Linked DNA regions of Homo sapiens. The protein of the gene in region 2 purifies or fractionates together with the protein of the main gene of each other region. This does not show direct contact. Each region holds a gene or a part of one and is shown on either strand. Other genes may lie near its edges.

Region 1 (8,398 bases), on a different chromosome or scaffold from region 2:
GCTTCTTTGATGTAACTTCTTTGGTGGTGTCTGTTCAAATAGTTTACCTTTTTTTTTTAATTTGTTGTTCATATTCTTGTTATTGAGATTTGAAGGTTCTTTATTCTGTATGCAAGTTTTTTAATATTAGATATGATTTTTGCATATTTTCTACCGGTCTGTAGTTTCTTTTTTCATTCTGTCAACAGTGTCTTTTATAGAAGAGTTGTTTCTTTTCAATTTTGATCAAGTTCAACTTCTTAATTTGTCTTTTTGTGGACCATGCTTTTCGTGTCATATCTAAAAAATCTTGGCTTAACCCAAGGTCACAAAGGTTTTTGCCAAAGTTCTGGAAATTTTCTAGCTCCAGATTTTACATTTAGGTCTATGATGCATTTTGAATTAATTTTTGTAGATGGTATTAGGTATGGATCTTAGTTCACATGGATGTCCAGTTGTTCCAGCACCATTGTTGAAAAAAGCTACCCTTTCTCCACTGAATTGCCTTTAAATTTTTTAAATGGACAAATAATAATTGTGCATATCTGTGGGATACAATGTGAGGTTTGCGTCTATGTATACATTATAGAAAGATTTAATCAAGATAAATAACGTATCCATCACCTCACCAACTTATCTTTTTTTTGTGGTGAGAATTCTAAAAATCTATTTTAGCAGTTTTGAAATATACACTATTAGCTGCGGTCACCATGCTGTGCAATAGGTCACTAAAATTTATTCTCCAGTCTAACTGAAACTTTGGACCCTTTGATCAACATCCTCACTTTCCCCATGCTTCCTCCTCCTTCCCCTGCCTCTGATAACCATTTTTCTACTTTCTGTTTCTATGAGATTGACTTTTTTAGATTCCACATATAAGTGAGATCATACAGTATTGTCTATGTCTGGCTTATTTCACTTAGCATAATTTCCTCCAATTCTTTCCATGTTGTCATGGATGCAAATGACAGAATTTCTTTTTTAAGGTTGTATAGTATTTCATTGTGTATATGTACTACATTTTCTTTATCCATTCATTCATTGATGGATTCTTAGATTGCTTCCACGTTTTGACTACTATGAATAATGCTGAAATAAACACTGGAGTGCAGATATCTCTTTAACATACTGATTTCAATTCCTTTGAATATATACCCAGAGAGGGGAAAGGAATCTGAGCAGGCATTTCTCAAAAGAAGAGATACAAATCCCCAACAAATATATTAAAAAATGTTGAAAATCTCTAATCATCAGGGGAAATGCAAATTAAAACCACAGTGAAATATCACCTCACAGCTGTTAGAATGGCTATTGTCAAAAGGATGAATAACAGGTATTGACGTGGATGTGGAGACTGTTGGTGGCAATATAAACTGGTGCTCTCACTATGGAAAGAAGTATGGAGGTTCCTCAAAAAGCTGAATTGCTTTTGAATATTTGTTGAAAATAACTTGCCCATATACGTTGTGGGTCTGTTTATGGACTCTATTCTGTTTCATTGATCAATACCACACTGTCTTGAATATTGTAGCTTTACAGTAAAAATTGAAATCAGGTAGTATTATCCCCCTAATGCTCTTTGTAAAAGTTGTTTTGGCTATTTTATTCAATTTCCATATGAACTTTAGAATCAGCTTGTCAATTTCTACAGAAAAAGCCAGCTAGGACTTTGATCGGGGTTGTGCTGTAACTATAAATCAATTAGGAGTGAATTGACATCTTAATGATATCAATTCTTCTGCCCTATGAATACAGTATATTTCTACATTTATTTAAGCCTAAAGTTTTCAGGACAGGTCTTACACATCTTTAATCAGATTTATCTCTAACTTCTAAAGCAAGACCCTTCTGTGTATGCTACCCAAAGCCCTGTGAGGGTTTTTTTTTTTATAATAGATTCCATTCAATAATAGGCTCCATTCAATAATTGATGAGATGAGTGTTTTGAGGAAATGCAAATTTACCAGAGAGACAAAATGTATCCTAAATAGTTTTCAATTTGTTTTTTAGTCAGAATTAATGCAGTTGAAATCTTTTAGTTTCACATTAGGCACACAGCAAGCTTGCAAATGCTTTTAGACCGATTAGGGATCAGCTACCAGCTCTGTGTACTTTGGTGTGTGTGTGTGTGTGTGTGTGTGTGTGTGTATGTATGTTATGTGTGTGCCCACATCTGCCTGTATGGTCTCTTAGTTAATTTTTATAATTGTATAATTAATTGGTGCTGTCAAATCTTTGGGGCATGGTAGGGAGAATTCTAAGATGGTCCTAAGATTCTTGTCTTCTGTTATACATTCTCCACTTAGGTATGGTTGGGACCTGTGAATATGCTGGGCTATCACTCTTGTGATTAGGTTACATTATGTGGCAAAGGTGAAGAGATTTTGCAGATGTAATCAAGGCACACAGTTAATTTTTGAGTTAATCAAAGGGGTGATAATCTTGGGTGGGCCTGACTTAATCTGGTAAAAGACCTTAAAAGAGGCACTGGACCCCTCCTGAGGAGAAAGAAGTTTTTCTGTTGGCCTTGGCTAAGTAGAACAACCATGTTGTCAACTGCTAATGGAGAGGGGCTGCCTCTAGATCCAGTAAATGCTACGGGTCTTAATTCTGTAACTGCAAGGAACTGAATTTGGCCAACAATCTGAATGAGTTTGGAAGAAGATTCTGAGTTGCACATGAGAACACAGCCCAGCCAAAAACTTGATTGCAGCCTTGTGAGACCCTGAGCAGTGCTCCAAGCTAAACCATACCTGGACTCCTGACACGTGGAAACAGATAATTAATGTGTGTGTTTTTAGCAATGAACAATAACTAAGTCAGCGGATACTCTAGCTGGCATTTGAAATGCTTCCCATTATGTTCGTTTGCTAGACCTGCCATAACAAAGTATAACACCATAGACTGGGTAACTTAAACAACAGAAATTTATTTTCTTGTAATTCTGGAAGATCAAGGTGTAGGTAAGTTTGGTTTCTTCTGAAGCCCCATCTTGTCTTGCAAGTGGTTGCCTTCTCACTGCATCCTCACATGGTCCTTCCTCTATGTGCATATATGTCTAAGTCCTAAACTCTTCTTAAAAGGACACCAGTCATATTGGATTCGGGCCCATCTTAGAGACATTACTTTAACTGAATTACCTCTTTAAAGACCTTTTCTCCAAATGCAACATACTCTCCCATGTGTTATCTTATTTGAAACCCAAAACAATGCTGTGGGGCATATCAGACCAGTATTATTTTGCTCCCCACTGGAAATTTGGGAAAACACTCTCAGAGCACTAACTTAATGTCACATAGCACATAAATTGTCTTCTGACTCTGAGTCTAGTGCTCTATCCAGTAGATTAAGTATTCAGATAAAGCATCCGAACCCAAACAGCAATGGACTTCTATTGGATAAGCATATTTGTAATATCTTATTGCCAGTTCTTTTTCTTTTTTCTTTTTTTTTAAACTGAGAATCTGTGCAAGCTACTGGCAGTTCAAATGCAGATCCTGCAGTTGCCCCCATCTCAACACCCTTGCTATGAGGGTTTTCTCTTTGTGTAGATAAGGGCTGCTTGGCCCACACTGGATTATCCCATTTTTACTGGCATTTCTGTGGGAGAAACTTATTATAAAGTAACCCCACTTGAACCTTTTTATGGCAGGACAAAGCAGTGACTCGAGTGTACACCAGCTCAGTTTGTACTTATTTTTTTTTTAACCTGTGTGCCAGGTTTTTGATACATGCTAAAAGTGATTGTTTGGAATATATCACCTCAGTGAGATTGTAAACTTCTGTACAAGGTGCTTTCTACCCAATAAGCATTTAGTGTGTAAGGTAGGTATACAATAATTATTGAATAAGCATAGTGGAGAAGCCAGTGGAAGCATTCCTGTTAACAAAGGGGAATTGGGTTCAATACACTTGCACGTAAAAGGTAATAATGCAAATTCTATGTATATTTGGAGTTCTTTGATTATTTGGTAAAGTCCAACAATGTGGTATTATCTTTAGTTCTAGCAAGTTTTTGAGTAGCTGATTATTCTCAAATTTACCTAAAACCTACTACTAGAATTTCAGTGTATGTAAGTTGAAATACAAAGTCAGCAATGTTGAAGATCTCAGATCCCAGAGGGAGAAATCCTAGAAAACATAAAGATTCCACACTCACCGCATCACTTCCTTAAGAAGAAGAAGAAGAAAAAAACAGCCAAAGAAAAAAAATCACAATAGTGATTAAACTGGTTGCTAAGAGCAAACTCCCTTTATTTTCCCAAGGAGGAGTCTGGAATTATAAGTAGAAAGGGCAAAGGAATAGGTGTAAGAAGGTGGCCCCAGGCTGTAACCGTCAAGAAGGCAAAGAATGAATAGAAGACAAGCAAGGGGAAAAACAGGCTTGACTGGGGTTTTTTTTGGGGGCTAGGCTGATAGAGCAGAATCAAGATTCTGACTTAGAAGAGCAGTCCCACCAGAGTTTGGAAGCAGTTTGCATAGTGGTTAAGAGCCTGGGTACCAGAATCACACCGCTTGGGATCCTGAGTCCCGCTCTGCCACTTACTATTTATGTAACCTCTGGCAACTTGGTTAACCTATACACCTCAGTTTTGTCACTTGTAAAATGGAGACAATAGTGTGTAACTTGTAGAGTAGCTGTGAATTAGGTAAGTTGATGCTTCAGTGCTTGGTTCATAGCAGACGCTCAGTAAAATGTTAAACTGTTATTTGTAGTTTTTATCCTTCCTCTTTCTTAATGTTGTGTACTGCAGCAGGGAGGGGGAGGGATGAAGCGCTTATCCCACTAGAAGAGTGATATTTGTGTGAGAGCCTGGGTCAGGCTTATTTTGAGACGTGGGCCCCACTGAGGTGAGGTGGCACCGCTTCCAGGGCACACCCTTTGCTCGGGCCCCGCCGTGACTATGAGGAGGCCGAGGCCACGGCTGGCAGAATGCACGGGTGGACCTCCTTGGAGTGGCTAACCCGGGGCGGCTGCACTGTTGTCCCTGGATACTTGACACTTTTCACTTTTTCTGCCTCCCGGCACTAGAATCCATGTGGGCTCACACCAGAGCCTCCCGGTTTCCGAGGCGTGAGGGCCACTTAGCGGTCATTCAGCTTCAGGGTCCGGCCCTGTCACGCTTTCGCTACAGCCTGGGAGTTCCGTTCGGACCCCACACACCGTCCTAGCCCCGGCTCCCCGCCACCCTGCCTCCCGCGCAGGCGCCGCCGGGGCCACCCCCGCCGCCATGTTTCCCCCGCCCGCGCGCTCCCCCCCCCACTGCCCCCTCCCTCCCCAACTGGGTTCCCGCCCCCCTCCCTCAGCAGCCCCCCCACACCCTGGTGAGGTCAGGCGGAGGCTCTGCCGCTGCGGCCGCAGTAGCTCAGCTCCTATTCCTGGGAAGCCTGGAACGGGGACTTTTGAAAATAACTGCAGCGGCATTCGGGTTAGGGTCCGTGCTCTCCGCCTGCGCCAGGACAGGGTGAAGTGGTCGGGGCGAGCAGAGGGTGCGAAGGTGCGGGTGCTGGTGCCTCGCAGCAGGAGGGAGCCCCGGCTGCGCCGCGCGACTCCCTCTTTGGCCCTCGGAGCGCAGCACCCGGCGGACAAGCGGCGGGACGCCAGGACGCGGCGAGCAAGGTGAGGCAGGGTCCTGAAGTCACAGGGGCTCCAGCAGCCGCTTCCCTGCCTTCGGACCCGGCGCTGCGCGGTGCGCGGCGAGGAGTTGCGATCTGTACCAGGGGCAGAGGAGCAGAGGAGCAGGGAAACAGCTTCATTTTGCCCGCCGCCCCCTCTTTTTCTCCCGCGTGCTGGTGCGCGCCCTCATCCTTACACCTTCGCATCCCTTTCTGCCGGTCCCTCTGGCTCCGTCGGACGCCTGGGTTCTTCTAGGACCCCAGAACCCGGCTTTCCTGTGCTTCTTTGTCATCTCTCCAAGATCTTCTCCTCTGGGCCTCGCTGTTGCTGCCCTGACGGTCTGGGGTCCCGCTGCCCGCCCCGGCCCTACTGTCTCTTGCCCTCTAACAGTTTCTGCTTTGTGCCTCCTAATCCATCTCTCCTTCAGAATCTTCTAACTTAGGAGGCTCCTCTGCTGGCTCCCAAGTCAGGAGCACACTCCTCTTCTTCCTCGAAGCTTTTAACTTAGCTCTGAATGTCTTCAGCTCTGAATATTTTGACTTTTTTGTTTGTTTGTTTGTTTAATTACAGTTGACTAATGATTTTCTTGGAGGCTTATAGTCTAGGCTACAGTTTACTGAAAGTGATGAGATCATTCCTTCACTAAATAGCCTTAGTAAATATCAACTAGGGAACTTTAAAGTTTCTTTCTAGGTTTCATTAACTTAGTCCAAGAACAATAGCCACTTAAAATGTATGTATATATGTTGGTACGCAATCTTCGTACATGGTCCTAAATCTGATTCTTCCCTGGCTGCTGAGCAGGCCTGAGAGAGAGGATTGGTGGGAATTGTGATGCCTGGCTCCATTTCTCTAATTGTAAACTAGGATGTTAATCGTTTTAATGTAGTCAGAGGACTTTAGTGGTTTGGGATAAAGTCGCTCAAGTTAGCATAGGCTGGTAACTAAGCACATTGAATGGAGACTAAGAGACGCTGGGATTTAAAACTGTCTCTGGAGGGCACCTGCTTTCTTTTTTTTGAAGCCACAGTTTCTTAACAGTAGATTTCATGTTTGTATAAACCCTCTAAAAGCAGCATATTTTAAAACCACGTAGTTACAAAAAAGACTACTCACTCTTAGCGATATCGCTTTCTCCCCATGTAGTTGTGGTGTTAGCTCCCATACTGAGGTTCATTTGCTCACTTTCATACTGCAATTAGTGTGTGAAGAAAGCTGAATGGAGAAGCACAAAGTGGAGGCAAATACCAGTGAACAAGCACATGCTGACATACGCAGCTGTGTTTTTGGAAATAGACTGTATCTAGTGTTCAAATTTAAAAACTGAGAAAAATGAAATAATTCAGCATTTATGACATCATTTTACATCTAAAAATATTAGCTCCCTTAACTGCAAGTTCTTATTAATATCCTCATACTTAACGGTAAAAGAGTTGTTTGCCTGATGTATGACCAAGTGTTGCCATTGACACAGTGTGCACTAATTGGCAGCAATCTCAGAAGAAACCAGGTTGTGAATGAAGATAATGGCTAAATTTCACTGTCCTGGTAGCACGTCTTATGGCAGTGAGATGAGAGTAGTTTCTGCTGCAACATCAAATGATGTATTTAAAAAACAGATAAATAAGAGCTTCAATTATTAAAAAGCCCAAGGTTTTCAATCTGCCATTTTTATAAGCACACTTCAAAAAGTGTAGTGTGATTATATAAGGCTCAGTTGATGTTCTGAAGAAAGTAGTTTTCACAAGAAAAGTAAGGCCTATTGCTTATCAATTTAGTTAGATAACTTGCAGATGATTTGTAGTTTCCCAATTGATTTGGTAAATTCCTGAGTTTACTTGAGGTTTATTAAAAAATGGAATGTAGTAGGGAAAGGGTACTTATTCTAATAGGCCCACTTTCTAAGTCTGTAATTTTCTTAGCAAACTATTCTCAAAATACATAAAAACTTACAACTTTTTCAAGGAAAAGAGTTTATACTATTTTCTTACTTTTTTCTTTTCATGCTTATTATTGATACAAAATCTAAGCTAAGATTGCTGCTAATGTGATTGCATAGTAAGACTATTTATATTTGCCAGGAAAAGAATAAAGGTGGATGAGTTAGCCATAAGCATTTTGCTCTGAATCTTCAATATGACTCAATATGTGTTTGATAGTCCATCTGGTACACCTAGAGGTTAGCAGACTGGATATTTCTGATATTACTAAATGTAACTGCACTTACTTATTGGATTATCTTCTTTCTCATTTTATGTACATTTCAAATTATGCTTCTTCATGTAATTTGACTTGCAGTAGTGAAATGAGACTGACCAATTTTCAAATTGTTTGATTTTTATTGATGTTTGATAAACCACTAAAACCTCTTGAAAATATTTTTTTCTTAAATCCACTGATTGAAACCGATGTATTTTTATTGCTATGAAATAATACAACAAATTTCCAGGAATTATTTCAGAAAATGTGGAAAGACTGTAGAGAAATGAATAGCCCTAGAGAAAATATCTCAAAATTATAAAAATGGCTTTCTCAAGTTACTGATATTCATAACAATCAGGTTTTTATGTATCATTCATTCATTTACTAATTCATTTTACAAAATCTACTGGGTACTTGTGTGCCAAGGCCCTGTGTTAGGCACAATGATAAACCTTATAAGGCATGATCTTTGCTCTTGTGGAGTATCACAGTGCTTATATTCTACCAGAGAATACAGACAATAAACGAGCAAACAAATGAAGAAGATCCTTATAGACTGTAGTAAGAGCAATGAAAATAAGTAGGGGAATATGATACAGA
Region 2 (7,152 bases):
GATGTGGCCATTTGTCCTAATTGTAGAAAATGAAACCAAGCAAAACTTTGCCTTATGGGGATAATGCTTCTTCATTAATGGTTAGGGTCTGACTCTCGCTCTCTTTATTATTTCTTTAAGCTTTTTGGGTGAGAATTTAAGATCCAAGCCTGGAATTATTTTTAATCGCTGCATACATTTATTCTTTCCTTGTTTTATATTAATAGAGTCTTAGTTTTAAGTTGGGTACATGATCACCCAGAAAAAGAAAAGAAAACATACTACATTTCCCAGCCTCTCTTGCAAATGACTGTGGCCATAAGACTATGTACTAGTAAAGGGGATGTTAGTATAAGATATCAGTTCAAAGAGAACTGGCATATAATATTTGCTCCCTTTTTTCTTCCTATAGCCTGCTGCCTGGAATGCATATGTGATGGCTGGAATGCTAGCTCTAATTTTGGATCATGAGGAAAAGTGCCACACCATTGGAGATGAGGGATGAGCTGGAAGGGGTGTAAGTTATTGAGGGTTTTGCTGAGCAGAACCATTATAATAACCCTGACATCTTACTTCTTGACTTACGTGAGAAAGAAATTTCTCTTTTATTTTAAGCCATCATTATTTTAGAACTTGCACACAATCAAATACCACAAAAGCTATCTAGTGCCTAGAACTTTAGAGCTAAAATGAGTTACTGCTGAATCATATAAAATAATCAAACAAAAAAATTATCTGCAATCATAAGCAAGGTCTTTATTTTCTCTCTTTGATTTCTTAAAATTATTTTGGAAAAATAGTTGTGTCTCCAAATGTACTTTCACAGAAGGAAGCTCATATGACCAAAGCAATATTCTGAGTCATTATGGCAAAAATATTTATTATTGAACAACTGAGTGTTTCATTCACTTCACATTTTACACATACTTAACACAAGCAGAAAGGGAAGTTTCAGTGTCAGAAGCAGGGGTCGTTCTCCTTAACTGAAAGACTATCAGGAGAGAGCCTTTGGTGATTAGCAATCCAAATTTGAGATTTTTTAAAACACCATTAAAAATAAAGGTTGCCTATAAAATATGGAAACACATAATATTTTCTGAAAATCTTTTTGGAAGAATGTCTTTTTATCTTCATTGTTACTATCTTAGACATTTTGAGGTTTATTTAACACAGCATTCCATCTGCTTAACATTCAAATTTAGACACACTGATTATCTGTTCTACTCTCCTGAATAGTTAAGTACACTCTATAAATAAACACATCAATTTTGCTCTATTACTACTCTTCCAAAAACGTCTCATATAATTGGAATTAACCTAGCATTTACTTATCATTAAATATATTTTTTTGTTAGAAAGGATATACAGCATATGAAATTGCAGGCTTTTTATGAGTTAAAGACAAAATTTAGAACTCTCAAATACTATTTACAATGTAAACTTCACAGTTATTACATTAGCTAGAATACATCACAACATTCACAACACAATATTTTTATTTGGTTTGGATATTGAAGTTGTTTTCTTGAATTACTTATGTAGAACTCAAAATTTAATTATGTTGCGTATCATTTTCCTTCAAGAATTCTGAAAAAGAAAAAATTGTTGCTTTAGGCATAAAATATATTTTATTTCTAGCATCTTAGTTTCATTCACTGATTTACTTATCTGATAAACACTTATTTCTCTTTGTCCCTTGTTAACAGCCTGTGGCAGGGGATCATGTCCTGGGACATACCAAGAGAGCAGCTTCTAGAGGACTGATTATCAGAGAGGAACTGGAATGTGAAAAGACGTCTAACTAACCATTATTAATGATTCACTTGTAATTTTCACTAATGGATGACCCACATGATTTCCTCTTCAAAGAATTTGTCCAAAGCCACCCATTTAAAAAAGAAAAGAATGGAGGATGGAATCTCATAAGTGATCTTACCATTTACAAAGCACAGTGTGATTAATCAATTCTCCTTTATATTTTAGTGCCTACCGTGTTTCTTAATTTGATGGAGAAGCCTTCTTATAAACACTCTTAGAAAAGCTATATGTAATTAACTTTCTTCTTTGAGCAAAGGGACTTGTTTCTCTGAGATGTCTATAAAAGATAAAGAGTTGATGTGGGCCACACTCCTGCCTCTGCTTTCTCTTAGAGGTCTAAGGGTAATTAGTGGACAAAAGCAGTCAATTAAGCAGGTATCTTCCCAGACACCATGTCCACTCTTGATGACTGTTGAAAACCTTAGATAACCCCATCAGGAACTGAGGTAAGGCCATGAATTGCCTTTAGTTTGAGCATGGGTGAATTTAATCTCCTTAACCTAGTTAGGGATTGGAATCTGGCTCACCTTCAGGTTTTATGAATAAAGTTTTATTGGAACACAGTCACTCCTATTCGTTTTACATCTAACTGTGGCTGCTTTTGTGCTACCATAGCAGAGTTAAGTCACTCTAACAGAAAATAGATGGCTCACAAAGCCAAACATATTTTACTCCATAGCCCTTTAAAATCTGCTAACCTTTGATATGGTGACAGCATGAAATTTCTTTAAGCACTTGCCCAGTATTATAGATTTTTTATGAGCGAATGTGAATATTAATGTAATGTAACTCAGGAAAGAAATATGTCTTGAACCCACATTTATATAAAATCAATTTTGATAGCAAGCTTATTACTTCACAAAGAAAAAAAGTCTATCCATGTTTTTTCTGCTCAAAAAAAATGTTGGCAGAGAATGCTATTAGAGTCATATAGGTAAAACAAACTTACAGGTAAAACAAGCTAAATTTAACTTTTGCTCTATGAAGTTTGCCATGTTTCAAGGAATATAGTTAGACCCAGAATGCCTTGATATTTTCATAGTAATGGGCCATGCTCTAATTTGGTGCTATTTCCCTATACTTAATTGAGGAGCTAACAGTCAATTGTGAGACTAAACCTTCAATTAATAAAAGCAGCATGGGTCGATCCTCAAAAGGAAAGCCCATTTTTCTTGTCAGTGTGAGTCAGCCTCCTCTGTTTTTTTATCTTGATACAAAGGTAGAAATAACCCCAAGTAAGCCAGGAACACTATTCAGATCTCAAAACGTTTGCTTATTGTGAGTGCTCTCTTTTACAAGATCAAAAAAATTTCATGAATCATTCTAAGCTGTTTACTGGGTTGGGGTCCACTGTTGTAGAAGTGTCTGTCTTGGATGAGGTCTCATGATGAGAAACTATTTAACCCTAAGATGTTTCTTACTAAGTGACTCTTAGCTACTTATATAATCAGAGACAGCCATAAGAATACAGAAGGAATGCACGAATATACCCACCACTGGGAAGTTGTCATCAGCTTTGCTCCAAAGGTCTTTTTCATCATTTTTCTAACTCTTCTGGAAAGTCGGGAGATTCTCCCTCACTGCTGCAGACCAGAAAAACATTGTACATATTAAGGCTCTCAGATGAGAAAGGGTCTAAAGAAACTATTATGACATAATGAATGTGCTGTTCTCTGTGCTCTGAAAGTGTATGGGGAGGCTAAACAATTATCTTTGAGGTTTGTTAGTACCTATGAATTATTCATCAATCTTAGAGTTTCTAAAATTATTCTCACAGAATTATCATCTAGTGGGCAAAGAGGTCATCTTGTCTGATCACACCCAAACAGAATTATCCTTAATACTCATCACTTAAACAAAAACAATTGGAATAAAAAGACAGAACACTACACTGTTTATGTATTGTGTCCAATATTTACACACCATAGAGAGATATAGATTTTACAGAATCTAAATATACAAAATACCTAATGGTTTAATTTGATTAAATAACAGTAGTGAATATGCACACGAAGTGAGTTCCATGTGTTACCAAATTGCAATTGACTATGCTTTACATGTTTTAAAAATCATCACTTTTGATGAAACTTGCTCTTAGATTCAGACTAGATGTCTGTATAGTCATCATTTTTAACACTGGCAGCATAGTAAAGTCAACTGGGGAACTCTTAAAAGAAATGTATGTCTAGGGCCACACCACCGAAGACACCGATTTCCTGGCAATTGGTTTGGGAGAAGGCCCAGACATCTGTATTTTTAAAGTTCTGCGGGGTAGTCTAATGTCAGCCAAGGTTGAAAATCACTGCTTCACGTAGTATAGCTAGATAAGTGAGATAGAGAGGTCTCCATGTGCAGCTTCTATTTTGAAAGTCAGTCATGATTCCTCATTTTAGCAAGTTCTCTTTTTCTTTACCTCCTCTTTCCATTCAGAATTGAGTTCAAATATTTCTTTACAGCCATTTGTTTTCTAAGGCGGGTATAGTTGTCAGTGAAGACTGCATCTGAGTGACGTTTGACTGGTACAGGGTCTTCTGAGATGTTACTGCTAAGGAACATGAGGAAAAGGAAATCAAAGAGTTTTCACAAGAAATGATAAATACACACATGTTCCAGGTTTCTTGGAGCCACATAAAAAGCAATTCCCACCCAACTAATTTTCTATCATAAAAAGACTAAAAGAAAAATACAACTAAACCTAAGGATGAAGGAAAGCAAGGAATCATCTGCCATATTTTGGCATGGCCTGGGACTGTTTTATGACACATTCTGTACAGCTGAGCAAATAATTCATCCAAAAATAAAAATTTGGGAATAGCTGAAGTTGTGCTCTGCCATTGGGAGAAATTTTTTTTTTTTTTAAAAAAAACATAATTACTTCTTTAGAAGCTATGCTACCCTGAGCAACGTCATCTAAATATTTGACTGTTGGCCATTTGGAATTCTCCATTTAATTTGAGCAGGAAGTAAAAAGAATATTCTGTTTGACCTTAAAATTTACCTCAGTCTGTACTATCTCTTTTTGATTGTTTTACTGAGTCTTGTTCAATTTGATTGCAGATTGCTAAATGATTGCTACTTGAGAAAAATGTGTGTCTGGAGTCAATGAATATGATATTATGAAAAAGTCTTAGTCCATGGGCTTGATAGATGTTATTGAAGAATACAAGTTATTTCATTTAACTAAATTAAACATTATCAACGAGTTTTCAATTTCAAACAAAGTAAATAACTTGTTAAGAGTGAAAATACAATATTCAGATTGAATAATGATAACATATTTTATAAAAATAATAAATTCTCTTTACCTAACACGTTTTCCCATAAGAGACTCAAGGTACTTTTTGGCAGAAAGTTGACCCAAGAGTTTACTGAAGTCACTGGTGAAAACTCCATCAGCATGCCTGGCATTTCTAAAACAAGGAAGAAAAAAATAGCTATTATTTTGTAAATGGCTTTCTAGAATATTATTATGGCTTATTAAATAACAAAAAAATTATGGGCTTATTATGAAAGCTTCTCATTAAAACTAAAGTTCAAAAGGAGATTTCTTAACACCCTAACAAAAGAGATCTTCTAGTCACTTATATCAAGATATACCCTATATTTCTAGCCCAAGACACTGAAAAATTAAAGAAACAGGCATTTCTAGGAGCACATTTCAATATTCCTCCATGGTTGAATCTTTATAACTATTTCTTTCTAAGAAATATTGGTGTAAAAATATGATCTATTTAAATTAGCTGCTATTTGTACATGGTGCTTTGTGTCTGCCCCACTGAATAAAGACATTCACAATGGGAAAATATTCTGATTTTGGAAAGTTCATAAACCCCAGTACACCTTTTTTTTTCTTTTTCCAAAATATTTGGAAACAAAATCTCTTAAGATAGAGAAGGCATTAAGGCCTATCATCCCACCTTTTCTCTTTCAAATGAAGCACCTTTTATACTTTGTCTGTACCAAGTACTATAGAGCTACTTGGTCTGTACTTGAAATGATGCTCTAGACAAACAGCTCTATGAATGAACAGCTCTATCAGGTATCTTTTCTTTATATAGAGACAAAACTCCTTGGCAACTCTTCCATCATTGGAATGCTAAATGCTGTACTTTTATCAGAATTGGTACAATCTGTGATGTTGGAATTATGTGCAACAGAATGGAAGTGAATGGTGTGTTCATCCTGGCTTGTTACAACCTTTCAGTATGAAAATTATGTACAGCTGTAAGATCTGCAGTAAATCAGGATGAATGAAGCCATGACACATAGAAACCTCTAGTGTTTTGCTATCGGAATAGCTTCATGGTGAGATAAAATAAGCACGTTTATAGTTCTTAAACACATTTTCTAAAATAAAACTCATTGGATAGTTTTATAAAAATAAACTCACCTGGATACATCATAATAGGGTGTGTCATTTTCAGCTAATGCATTTTGCAACATGTCAATGTCTTCTTTTAATGAAACTTGATCAGGTTCATTTGCTCCCTCAAAGGGTATTCTGTCACCCAACCTGATGGGGAAAGTTACACGAGAATAATACATTCTTTTTTCAGAAGACAGTGTGTATGGTTCCGCAACCATTTAAAATAAGATACTTAGACTCTTGGGAAGTATTACCCAGTCATAATATGAGAATAGCATAATTTGACTTAATGGCTCATATAGTTAATGAGAGTATAAATAGGAAATTCCTATTATCCTATAAAGTAGATGCCATATGACTTTTATAAGCTGAATATACAAAACACAAGAGCTACTTAATTCAATCTTATCAGAGCATTAAGCAAACTATACTTCTTTGGTGTAATTTACTATGCCAAGAATATCTTCACTTTGCAAAGTCAAATTTCGTATGTAGAAATATTTTATGCAAAATAGAAACTTGCAAAAAACTAATATTGAATGAGAACTGATAACAATTTATGGATTTGGTGATGTTCAGTATTACCTGTTCCAAACATCTCTGAAGAACAGAGTATTAACTGCTTCTCTCTCTCTCGACCCCCAAGCTTTGCTTCAAATATTTACTTTGGCATTATATATTTCTCTGTATTGACAGAGTTCAAAGAATGTCTCCATAGATGGATAGCTCATCTATGAAGATGAATTTGAATTCAATAAGTTTTATGGGGCCTTCTTTTTTCTAATCTTATGTATTAACACAACTTTAATAAGGGATGTACAATGTTACACTGAAAGACTAAGAATAGTCAAATGCATATATGGAATATGACTATATTTATGGATGCATGCATATTTCAATCACCGGCAACTCTTATAATTTTGTGTGTGCAGATTTTCACTGTTAGGGCAAACATCCAAGGAGCGTGTCAGCTCCTGGACACTTGTGTA

The links. The genes of interacting proteins can lie anywhere in the genome.
Region 1: the proteins of VIP (region 2) and KLHL13 purify together in Homo sapiens (co-immunoprecipitation; 2 studies listed by BioGRID and IntAct, with this or other methods). This does not show direct contact.

The regions. Positions count from the first base shown.
Region 1 is NC_000023.11:118,113,709-118,122,106, reverse strand, and holds the start of KLHL13 (kelch-like protein 13), read left to right. Parts: upstream 1-5,296; 5' UTR 5,297-5,599; intron 5,600-8,398. UniProt on the Homo sapiens protein: Substrate-specific adapter of a BCR (BTB-CUL3-RBX1) E3 ubiquitin-protein ligase complex required for mitotic progression and cytokinesis.
Region 2 is NC_000006.12:152,753,324-152,760,475, reverse strand, and holds the end of VIP (VIP peptides isoform 1 preproprotein), read right to left. Parts: intron 6,311-7,152; coding exon 6,188-6,310; intron 5,601-6,187; exon of another isoform or gene 5,208-5,600; coding exon 5,103-5,207; exon of another isoform or gene 4,343-5,102; coding exon 4,211-4,342; exon of another isoform or gene 3,381-4,210; coding exon 3,335-3,380; 3' UTR 3,292-3,334; exon of another isoform or gene 1,686-3,291; intron 1,567-1,685; 3' UTR 716-1,566; downstream 1-715. UniProt on the Homo sapiens protein: PHM-27 and PHV-42 are two bioactive forms from proteolysis of the same precursor protein, that cause vasodilation. PHM-27 is a potent agonist of the calcitonin receptor CALCR, with similar efficacy as calcitonin.